Linked DNA regions of Homo sapiens: region 2 is linked to region 1. Evidence: fine-mapped expression QTL. A gene starts in region 1. The other region holds a variant in brackets. All regions are shown on one strand. Distances are between the middles of the regions.

Region 1 (5,313 bases):
TGGCTTCTAGTAGGAGCCATCTCGGTTGGATGGACTTGGAGATTTTATACACACACACACACACACACACACACATATACATACACATATATACATACACACATATATATACACACACACATATATACACACACACACACACACACACACACACATAAACTGTTGCCCAGGTGCAGTGGCTAATCCCAGCACTTTGAGAGGCCGAGGTGGACGGATTGCTTGAGCCCAGAAGTTCGAGACAAGCCTGGGCAAAATGGCAAGACTCCATCTCTACAAAAAAATACAAAAATTAGCCAGGCGTGGTGGTGCACACCTGTCGTCCCGGCTACTTGGGAGGCTGAGGTAGGAAGATAGCTTGAGCCTGGGAGGTGGAGGCTGCTATGAGCTGAAATCGCACCACTGCACTCCAGCCTGGGTGACAGAACAAGACCCTATCTCAAAAAAAAAAAAAAGTGTGTATTTGCCCTTCAGAATCTCATCCTGTATCGGACTCCCGGGATAACTAATGAAATGAGATAGTCCAGCTAAAGGCCCGAAGAGCAGTTTCCCTCATGAAGCAGGATGGGCCCTGTTCTATGGTCTGGGTGCTGGAGTGTGACCCTGCCCAACACACAGGGCTTCACTCCTGGCCATATCATCTCCCTAGTTTGCATGGAAAGCAGGTAGTTAGGAGACCACTGTGAAATTGAGGCTTTGGGGCTTTCATTCTCAGCCGTGTGTTTCCATGAAAACAGGAACTGAAATGCACAAAACTATTGATACGGCTGTAGTCATGTGTTTGTCAGAGAAAATGCACTATCAGCTGTCAAATCTATCTCCTCCCACTACAGATAGAGGGGTGGGGGTGAGGCAGCACAGGAGGCAGAGAGGCGAGGTGCCCAGGCAGCCCGAAGCAGGGATGTGCTGGACGCTGCCCAGCAGGATGGTTCCAGACCGAGCTGGAGGGGAGTTCGGCCGGCCAGAGCAAGCTGAGGAGCTCTGGACGGCCAGCCCCGGAACCCAGAGGGCTGTTAGGTGGCCAGGCTGTGGAAGAGGAGGGGCTCTGGCGATACCTTTTCTGTTGCCATAGGAAGTCTCTTAGACAAAATGAAAGCTCCCTCAACCTGTCATCTCAATATCTGTTTCTGTGAGAGTATTTGGTTTTTCAGAAATGTATGGGCCAGAAAAATTCTCTCATTCAACAGGCATTTATTGAGTGCCTCCTACGTTCCAGGCACTATGCCAAAGCTAAGTAAAACCCAAGAGGGCTTTTCTTTGACCAGGATCTGAGTCAGGACTACAGCATGTAAGCTTTCTATTACATGTCTTCTAAATCAAGTGAAACCAGAAAGACCAAAACATGCTTAAGAGTAAAGATCAGACTTCTCGTTCTTTGAAAACATCTAACACCTTAGAGTTAATTTGGGCCCGCTCGTTTTCCATTAGACAAGTTTCTTGTTCAGACATTTGGGGATGGATCTCCCCATTTGCTAAAACAGACCGTGGGACGGCTTCTTACCTTGGAGGCAGCAAAGATGTCTGTTACGGTCAACTCGGTGCACAGAGTCTTGGTCCAGGCAGAAATGAGAGAGCAAGAGACAGAGTTAACCTCCAACCGGACAGAGAAGTCCTTGATGAGCAGCTCTCACTCCCTCCAACTGAGGAAACTTCCTACAAACCCTCAGAAAAAAGAGTGGCAGGGGAGAAGCCTCGCTGTGTGCCCTGGACTGCCACCAACCACCAGTTCCAACTTCTCTAGCAGCTGTTAACGTTTTCATGCCTAGAAATACTGAGAGCATCACCAGAACATCTGGAGAGATGGTGCCAGATAGGTACTCACCTTCTGCTCTGTGAGGCTGTTCAAAGTTTTGATGATCTCCTGTAAGGTGATATCGCACTTGTGTCCGTGGACAAAGTTGCCGGCACATGCTAGCAGGAAGAACAGAGGGGGAAGCAGTTGGGAGGTGAGACCCATTAATAGGTGTCGATTTGCAGTGACAATGTGAGGCAATTAGTTTATCAGGAGAAGCTAACGATGCAATGCTGACAAAGATATCTCTATATATAGATTTAAAATTGCTGAAACCGAGGGAAAATGAGTTTACATTGGAAATTTTCGTTACACCAGATTGTCAGTCACTTGGGGCCAATCAGCACCTCTCTTCCAGGAGAAAAAATGCCTCACAAACAGGTAAAATGTTCCTGTGAAATCAGACCAATAGGAAAATGAAACCTTTTTAAAAAATTAACTACAAAGTTTCAGCATAGGAAATTACACCATAATTTGCTCTTTAGATTAATCTTATCAGCTTGGGGCTGCTGCTGGCTTTTTGCTTTGCATAGAAGGGAGAGGCCACAGGTGTCCGAATTTGTTGTAATGCAGTCCTCCTGGGGAAAGATAGAGTAATATCAAGAAAGTTTTACTTGAAAAGTATTTTAACCTGGCTTCTTCCAAGTACAGGTGGCATCTTGGAAACTGTCCTGTCATGGAAAAGCTGATCTGGGGCTCCTTCTCTGCATAGAGGCAGAATAACAGGCAGACTCTCCTACCCCAGCACTGGGGGACAATGTTCTCCCAAGTTTAGGTGTTTTGAGAAGGACAGGTCGTATCAGGTGAGGCCTAGTTTGGGTCCCAGCAGGTCCATAAGGTCCTTACCCATAAGGAAGCCCTTGGCAAGGTAGGTCTATTCTGAGGTTTCAGGAATGACTTTTTTTTTTTTTTTTCTGAGACAGGGTCTCACTCTGTCACCCAGGCTGAAATGCAATGTTGTGATCAGGGATCACTGCAGCCTCAACCTCCCAGGCTCAAGTGATCCTCCCACCTCAGCCCCCCTAGCAGTAGGTGCGTGCCACCGCACCATGCCTGGCTCATTTTTATTTTTATTTTTTGATAGAGATAAGAGTCTCACTATGTTGCCTAGGCTCATCTCAAATTCCTGGGCTCAAGTGATCCTCCTACCTCAGTCTCCCAAAGCTCTGAGATTACAGGTGTGAGCCACCATGCCTGGCCAGGAATGCCCACTTTTTGAATGGAACCTAAACACATCCTCAGCTAATTAGGAAAAAGAGCTACAGTCTTACCAACTTACAAATCAGCCCTCCTAGTCAGTGCCCCACCACCCGCCCTGCTTGTTTTTTATTGAATTCATGTGGACACAATAAGGTGCTCATTGCCTCACCCCAGCAGTGAACGTAAGGACCCCACCACTCACTCAGGTGCCTGGGCCCTGTGCAAGGCCACCCCACCTCCCAGTAAGGGCTCATGGGCAGCAGGATTCTTGGGCCCTGCCTGCCCCCTGCTTTTCTCCCAGAACCTTCCCTTCCCTTGGTCTCTGACCTTCTTTTCCCTATGAATTTCTTTTTTTTTTTTTTTTTTTTGAGATGGAATCTTGCTCTGTCACCCAGGCTGGAGTGCAGTGGCGTGATCTTAGTTCACTGCAAGCTCCGCCTCCTGGGTTCATGCCGTTCTCCTGCCTCAGCCTCCCCGAGTAGCTGGGACTACAGGCACCTGCCACCACGCCCGGCTAATTTTTTGTATTTTTAGTAGAGACGGGGTTTCACCGTGTTAGCCAGGATGGTCTCCATCTCCTGACCTCGTGATCCGCCTGCCTCGGCCTCCCAAAGTGCTGGGATTACAGGCGTGAGCCACTGTGCCTGGGCCTCCCTATGAATTTATTCTGGAAGATCATCTAAAAATGTGTGTTGCTAAGGTTTTGCCTCTGTTCCACTTCCCCGCCCCCCCCTCACCACCCCCTGCCCCCATACTCTGTCACCCAGGCTGGAGTGCAGTGGTGATCATAGCTTACTGTAGCCTTGATCTCCTGGGCTCAAGGCATTCTCCAGCCTCAGCTTCCCGAGTAGCTGGGATTACAGGCACATGCCACCACGCCTGGCTAATTTCTGTATTTTTTTTTTTTTTTTAGTAGAGATGGGGTTTCACCATGTTGGCTAGGCTGGTGTCGAACTCCTGGCCTCAAAATGATCCACCCACCTCAGCCTCCCAAAGTGCTGGGATTATAGGCGTGAACCACCATGCCCGGCCAAGGTTTTGCCTCTGTTTTGGATCTTTTCTTCCCTTATTATTATTATTATTAAATTGACAAATAAGTATTGCACATATTTGTGCTGTATGATATAATGTTTTGAAATGTGCATGTTATGGAATTGCTACATCAAGCTACTTATACAATACTTCACATATTTATTTTTGGTAAGAACATTTAAAATCTACTCTGTGATTTATTTATTTATTTTGAGATAGAGTCTTGCTCTGTTGCCCAGACTGGAGTGCAATGGCGCAGTCTCAGCTCACTGCAACCTCTGCCTCCTGAGCTCAAGCAATTCTCCTGCCTCAGCCTCCCGAGTAGCTGGGATTACAGGTGCCTGCCACCACGCCCAGCTAATTTTTGTATTTTTAATAGAGACAGGGTTTTACCATGTTGGCCAGGCTGGTCTCGAACTCCTGACCTCAGGTGATCTACCCACCTCAGCCCCTGCAAAGTGCTGGGATTACAGGTGTGAGCCACTGCGCCTGGCCTGTCTTCATGATTTTTAAGTATACAAGACATTGATATCAACTGTTGTCACCATGTCGTACAATGGCTCTCTTTAACTTAACTCCTCCCAGTTGAAATTTTATATCCTTTGACCAACATCTTCCTGATCACCACCCTCCCAGCCCCTGGTGACCATCATCCTACTCTCTGCCTCCCTGAGTTTGGCTTTTTTATATTTCACATATGCGTGAGATCATGTGGTATTTGTCTGTCTGTGCCTGGATTTTTTCACTTAGCATAATGTCCTCCAGGTTCATCCATGTTGTGGTGAATGACAGCGTTTCCTTCTTTTTTAAGGCTGTATAGTATTCCACTGTCTATATATAGTTTTGGATCTTATCGCAGTGCCTCAAGTTCTGTGAAGGAGAGAATCTGGATAATTGTATCAGGAGGTCCTTAGACCATATTTAGGATCCTTCCATTGGGACTGGGCAGCAAGGTTACCAAACTAAATGCAGTGGCTTCAGATGCCAAACCACCTGAGATGAGCCACACCTCACAGGTGAGGGGTATGGTCCCCCACAACACTGCCCTTGCTTCAGACGCCAGCTGCACATTCAGGGGTTCCCAGCCCACCCTCACTGCTGACTGGCTGCAAATCTGGGAGTTTCCACTACCCCTCAGGTTCCAGAATGCACTAGGATGACTGACAGAACTCAGGAGAGTGCTATACGTAAGGCCACAGTTTTATCATAACAAAAGCATTCAAATCAGAACCAGCCAAAAGAGGAGACACAGGGGCGAGATGGAGGAGGGGCCCAAACACAAAGCTCTCATT
Region 2 (5,389 bases), 40 kb before region 1:
AAATATTGGGCCAGCAGATTACAATTATGATGAAACTATCAGTACATTACGGTATGCCAATCGTGCTAAGAATATTAAAAATAAAGCTAGAATTAATGAAGATCCAAAGGATGCTTTGCTGCGTCAGTTCCAGAAAGAAATAGAAGAACTGAAAAAGAAGCTTGAAGAAGGTAGCTTTTCCTCAAAATATTAATCTTTATGTTGGCTAAAAATACATTGTTGAACCACTAACTGTTCTAACAAAAGCCCTCTATTAAACCTTTTTTGAGCCTCTAACATTGGTAGTTAAATGAATATTTCTAGAAAGTGACTTGGTACTTACATACTTTCGCATTTTCATATTAAGCTTAAGTAAAATTACATAATATTTGTGTATGTGGTTTTTTAAAAACATTTGCATGATGTTTTGTAGATTTCATATGACCACTTTTTAAGGAATGAATGTTTATTTGTCTCTGTATAAGAGCAAATTCTGCAATGTATGTATTTAGGTGAAAATGACCAGAATTCTGGCATTGCAATCAATATCAACTAACTATTGTTTGAAGTAAAGCAAGATATTAGACAGTCATGAGTAAACCAAGTTTGCTATAAGGAAAAATGCATTGCATGACCTTTAAAATATCCTTTCATACCTAAATTTGAACATGAGATTGTATTTTGGAAATTCTTTTCTAACAATATCATGCTAGAAAGTTGGAAAATTTGAAGATCTTATTTATGAGAGTGAGACGCTTCCCAGTCATTAAGTGCTGAGTGAGTCCTTGCACCTTAATGCGAGAAACAGATCCTTTCTGATTGGTACAGAGCTCCTTCGCGAACCACGTAAACAGGGCTTTGGTTTCAAAGCACCTTTGTAGTCTGTGAGAAGACTGACTAGATCAGAGGTGAAATTCAGAGACGCCAGCATCACAAATGTTTAGAGAGGGTACTTATTTAGTAAACAAGTAGTTATTGAGGAAAAGCAGTAAGAGAACTGTTAGATAATGAAATTTGGTGTTTTAAATGTGACCACTAGGTGGTATTTATAGCCAGTATGTTTTAAAGATTTTTAATTTCTTAGCGATGTTAACGGTGAGTGCATACTTTTATTTTGCTGACTTTATGTTTTACATTTTTTTGTTGTGGTAAAATATACATGACATAAAATTTATCATTGTAACCATTGTTAGTTAAGTGTACAGTTAGTGGCATCAAGTATATTCGCATTGTTGTGCAACTGTCACCACTATTCATTTCTAGAAATTTTTCATCATCCCAAACAGAAATGCTGTGCCCATTTAAGTAGTAACTTCCTATTCTTTTCTCCCCCAGTCTCTGGTAACCACTATTCTACTTTCGGTCTCTATGAATTTGACTATTCTAGGTACCTCATATAAGTAAAATCATGGAGTATCTACTTGTGACTGGCTTATTTCACTTAACAGAACGTTGAAGGTTCATCCATATTGTAGCAAGTGCCTGAATTTTATTCCTTTTTAAAAAATTGTGGTTAAACTTGCATAACATAAAGTTTACCATTTTAATCACATTTAAGTCTACATTTCTGTGGCATTACATTCACATTGTTCTGCAGTTATCCGTCTTCAGTTTTCTTCTTGCAAAATTGAAACTTTGTACTCATTAAAAACAGTATGTACCCATTCCTCCCTTCCCCTAGTTCCTGGCCAACAACCATTCTGCTTTGTCTATGAATTTGACTGCTCTGGGTATCTTACGAAAGCGGAATTGGTGGGGCGCAGTGGCTCACGCTTGTAATCCCAGCACTTTGTGAGGCCGAGGCGGGTGGATCAGTTGAGGTCAGGAGTTCGAGACCAGCCTGGCCAACACGGTGAAACCCCATCTTTACTGAAAATACAAAAATTAGCTGGGCATGGTGGCTCTCGCCTGTAATCCCAGCTACTTGGGAGGCTGAGGCAGGAGGATCACTTGAACCTGGAAGGTGGAGGTGGCAATGAGCCGAGATTATGCCACTGCACTCCAGCCTGGGTGGCAGAGTGAGACTCCCATCTCAAAAAAAAAAAAAAAAAAAAAAAAGAAAGTGAAATACAGCATTTGTCTTTTTGTGACTGGCTTATTTCATTTAGTATAATGCCTTCAAGGGTCATCCGTGTTGTAGAATGTATCAGGACTTCTTTTTAATTCTGAATAACATTCCATTGTGTATATACTACATTTTGTTATCCATTCATCCACCAATGGACAGTTGGTTCTTTCCACCTTTTGGCTATTGTGAATAATGCTGCTATGAACGTGGGTATACTAATACCTGTTTGAATTCTTGTTTTACCATTTTTGGGGTATGTACCCAGCAATGGAATTGCTGGATTCTATGATAATACTGTTGTTAATACATTTCAGTTCATTTTTGCTCTTATGACATTTCTTTTTATAATCTAGTTAATGGAGTTGATCATATCAACAATAAAAAAGTAGGCAATAGCATTAAAATAATAATTTTTAAACTTAAAAATTATTGTAGGCTATATGCAACTTGCAAACATGATATGGAGAGTTCCTATCTACCCTTCACCCAGCTTCACCTCATGTTAACAT[T/C]TTTTATAAGCATACAACAGTTATTGAAACCAGGAGATTTACATTGATATAGTCTTATTAACTAATCTGTGGACTTTATTCAAATTTGGCCAGTTTTCCTTCCAGTGCCTCTTTTTCCTGGTCCAGGATACAATCCAGGATCACACACTGCATTTATTTGTCATGCTTTCTTTGTTTTGTTGTTGTTGTTGTTGTTGTTGTTTGTTTTTTGTTTTGAGACAGAGTCTCGCTCTGTTGCCAGGCTGGAATTCAGTGGCACAGTCTCAGCTTACTGCAACCTCTGCCTCCCTGTTCAAGCGATTCTCCTGCCTCAACCTCCTGAGTAGCTGGGACTACAGGCACATGCCACCTCGCCCAGCTAATTTTCGTATTTTTAGTAGAGACAGGGTTTCACCATGTTTGCCAGGATGGTCTTTATCCTCTGACCTCGTGATCTGCCTGCCTCGGCATCTCAAAGTGCTGGGACTACAGGCGTGAGCCACCATGCCCGGCCATGTCATGCCTTTTTAATGACGATGTCTAGCACACTTGTTCTTCAGTCTAATTCCCCAGTCTTTCTTGATCTTGACATTTTTGAAGAGTACTGGTCATATATTTGTTGAATGTTCATTAATTTGGGTTTGTCTACTTTTCTTTTATAATGACCCTGCAAAGTTTCTCCACTGCAAATCTATTGTTTTATGTTTCCATTCGTAATTAACATGTATCTTGTGGGGGATACTTTGAGACTGCAAAGGTCCTGTTTCTTGTCATACTTTCTTCTACTATTTTTAGTATTCATCAATAGTTCTTGTCTGCAACAATAATCCTGTGGCATTTGCTCAATGTTATTTTCTATTCTCATCATTTCTTCCTTGTTTAGTGTTTAGGATTCTATTGTATGGAAGAACAGCCCCTTCATTCCCATTTGTTTATTTATTCAAGTATTTATCTTATTTAGATCATGGATTATAATCCAGTGTTATCATTATTTATTTTGTTCATTGAATTGTTCCAGCTTTGGCTATTATGAGATCCTTCAGAGTAGTTCCTGTATTCTTTCAGCATGTGCTCATCAGTTTTTTTGAGCATTTGATTACTTTTTGGCACTACAAAAGGTTTTAGGTTTATCTTGTGTCTTCCTTGCCCAATCTTAGAATCATTCACTTCTCTCTGGTCCCTTCTGTAGGAGAATGGTATTTAGAAACCCAGTTTTGGGCACTAGCTGTGCTCATTACTACCAAGATGTCATTGTTTCTAAGCCCGAAGAAAAAAATATTTTTCAGAAATTTCTTCTCCCAAGACTCTGTGTTCCTTTCCATCTTGTACTTACAGGTACAATTATTACCTGGTTGTGATTAGAGTATATTTTACTTTTTTCTCCTCTATTTTATTTTGTTAGACATTTCATATGTAAACAGTGGCATTTAAAAATAGCTAATTTGAAGATGATATAGTGCTGATCTGTTTTATTGGCTTCATCATTCCTTTTTTGTTTTTTATCTTTAAGTTAATGTGTAGTTAACACTGTCTTTGTACAAATAAGCACTTCTTTTTTTGAAAATATCTTGTGATACAGTCCTAAAAGTGGGATCATTGTTACATGACAGTTCTGTGTCTCTTAAAAATACAGATTGAATGAATTATTTGAAATCTTAAACAGGAAGCTGTTTTAGAAGAAATTGTTCCTCAAAAGTGATCACATTTTTAAAAGACTGAATTAGTAACTCTACCACATAATTTATATATATATTTAAAATTATACATAAAGAAATGATTTGAATATTTTTATTTTTTTTTTTGAGACAGAGTCACTCTGTTGTTGAGGCTGGAGTACAGTGGTGCCATCTCGGCTCACTGCAACCTCTGCCTCCTGGGTTCAAGTGATTCTCCTGCCTCAGCCTCCCAAGTAGCTGGGATTACAGGTGCATGCCACCAAGCCCAGCTAATTTTTGTATTTTTAGTAGAGATGGGGTTTTGCCATGTTGGCCAGGCTGGTCTCAAACTCTTGGCCTCAAGTGATCTGCCTGCCTCAGCCTCTTAAAGTGCTGGGATTACAGGCGTGCGCCACCTTGCCTAGCCAGAATGGTTTGAAATTTTAAGTGGGTCAGAATTTAACTTCTCTTTAGAGACTTTAAAAATAAAGTCTTTTTGGATATCTCATCTGTGTCTGAGATTGGCATATCTGTTATACTTTCTAGGAGCATTTAAATAGTATTTAAATTTGTTGTTTGCAGTAACAAAAATCTGAGGAAGAAAGCTGATATAGGTATTTCCTAAATAGCTAATGACTTCGTACAGGATAAAAAACATTGTATTAAATTTCTGTCCAAGGAGAAGAAATATCAGGCTCTGATATCAGTGGGTCAGAGGAAGATGATGATGAAGAGGGTGAGGTTGGAGAAGATGGAGAGAAAAGGAAAAAAAGAAGGGGTAAGTTCTGTTTAGTAATCTGATTTGTAGAAATTAGGTGGTTTCACAAGGTGGTAGAGTGCATGACTTTTATTTTGCCGTTATCTGTTTAATATATTAGATAACAATTAGAACAGAAGATGTATGCCATTTACCTGGTTAACTTTGCATTTTTTCTCCTGTATTGATCCGTTTATAGCTGACTTTGAATATATGTTCTGTTTTTTTAGAATTTAGAATTGTAAGACTCTATAATACTGGGTATGCCATTTTAAAATTTCCTGTGTGTTTTAATTTTATGTAGGGACTTACATCTGTGTTAGGAACCTAAGTTTTTTTGTTTGTTTGTTTGTTTGTTTGTTTTGAGACGGAGTCTCATTCTGTCGCCCAGGCTGGAGTGCAGTGGCGCGATCTCGGCTCACTGCAACCTCCACCTCCCAGG

Which allele goes with the higher level. Positions count from the first base shown, and alleles are read on the strand shown. Sizes are in standard deviations (SD) of each study's normalised expression.
For the expression in coronary artery of the gene that starts at base 2,016 in region 1, allele T in region 2 goes with a lower level than allele C (moderate effect, 0.48 SD a copy in GTEx).

Evidence for each region. PIP is the estimated chance that this variant, and not a neighbour inherited with it, causes the effect. A credible set is the group of variants that fine-mapping cannot tell apart.
Region 2: its variant is the best candidate, but not a certain one, in a credible set for the expression of IL4 in coronary artery (GTEx, PIP 0.58).

The regions. Positions count from the first base shown.
Region 1 is chr5:132,670,692-132,676,004 of GRCh38, reverse strand. IL4 (interleukin 4) reads right to left here and starts at 2,016. Exons shown (of 4, transcript NM_000589.4): 1 at 1,820-2,016; 2 at 1,499-1,546. The coding sequence starts at 1,954.
Region 2 is chr5:132,710,538-132,715,926 of GRCh38, reverse strand. KIF3A (kinesin family member 3A) reads left to right here. Exons shown (of 19, transcript NM_001300791.2): 8 at 1-170; 9 at 4,870-4,968. Among named protein-coding and RNA genes, the nearest start is that of KIF3A, 24 kb to the left of the region's middle. The variant T/C (reference allele first, on the strand shown) is at 2,557.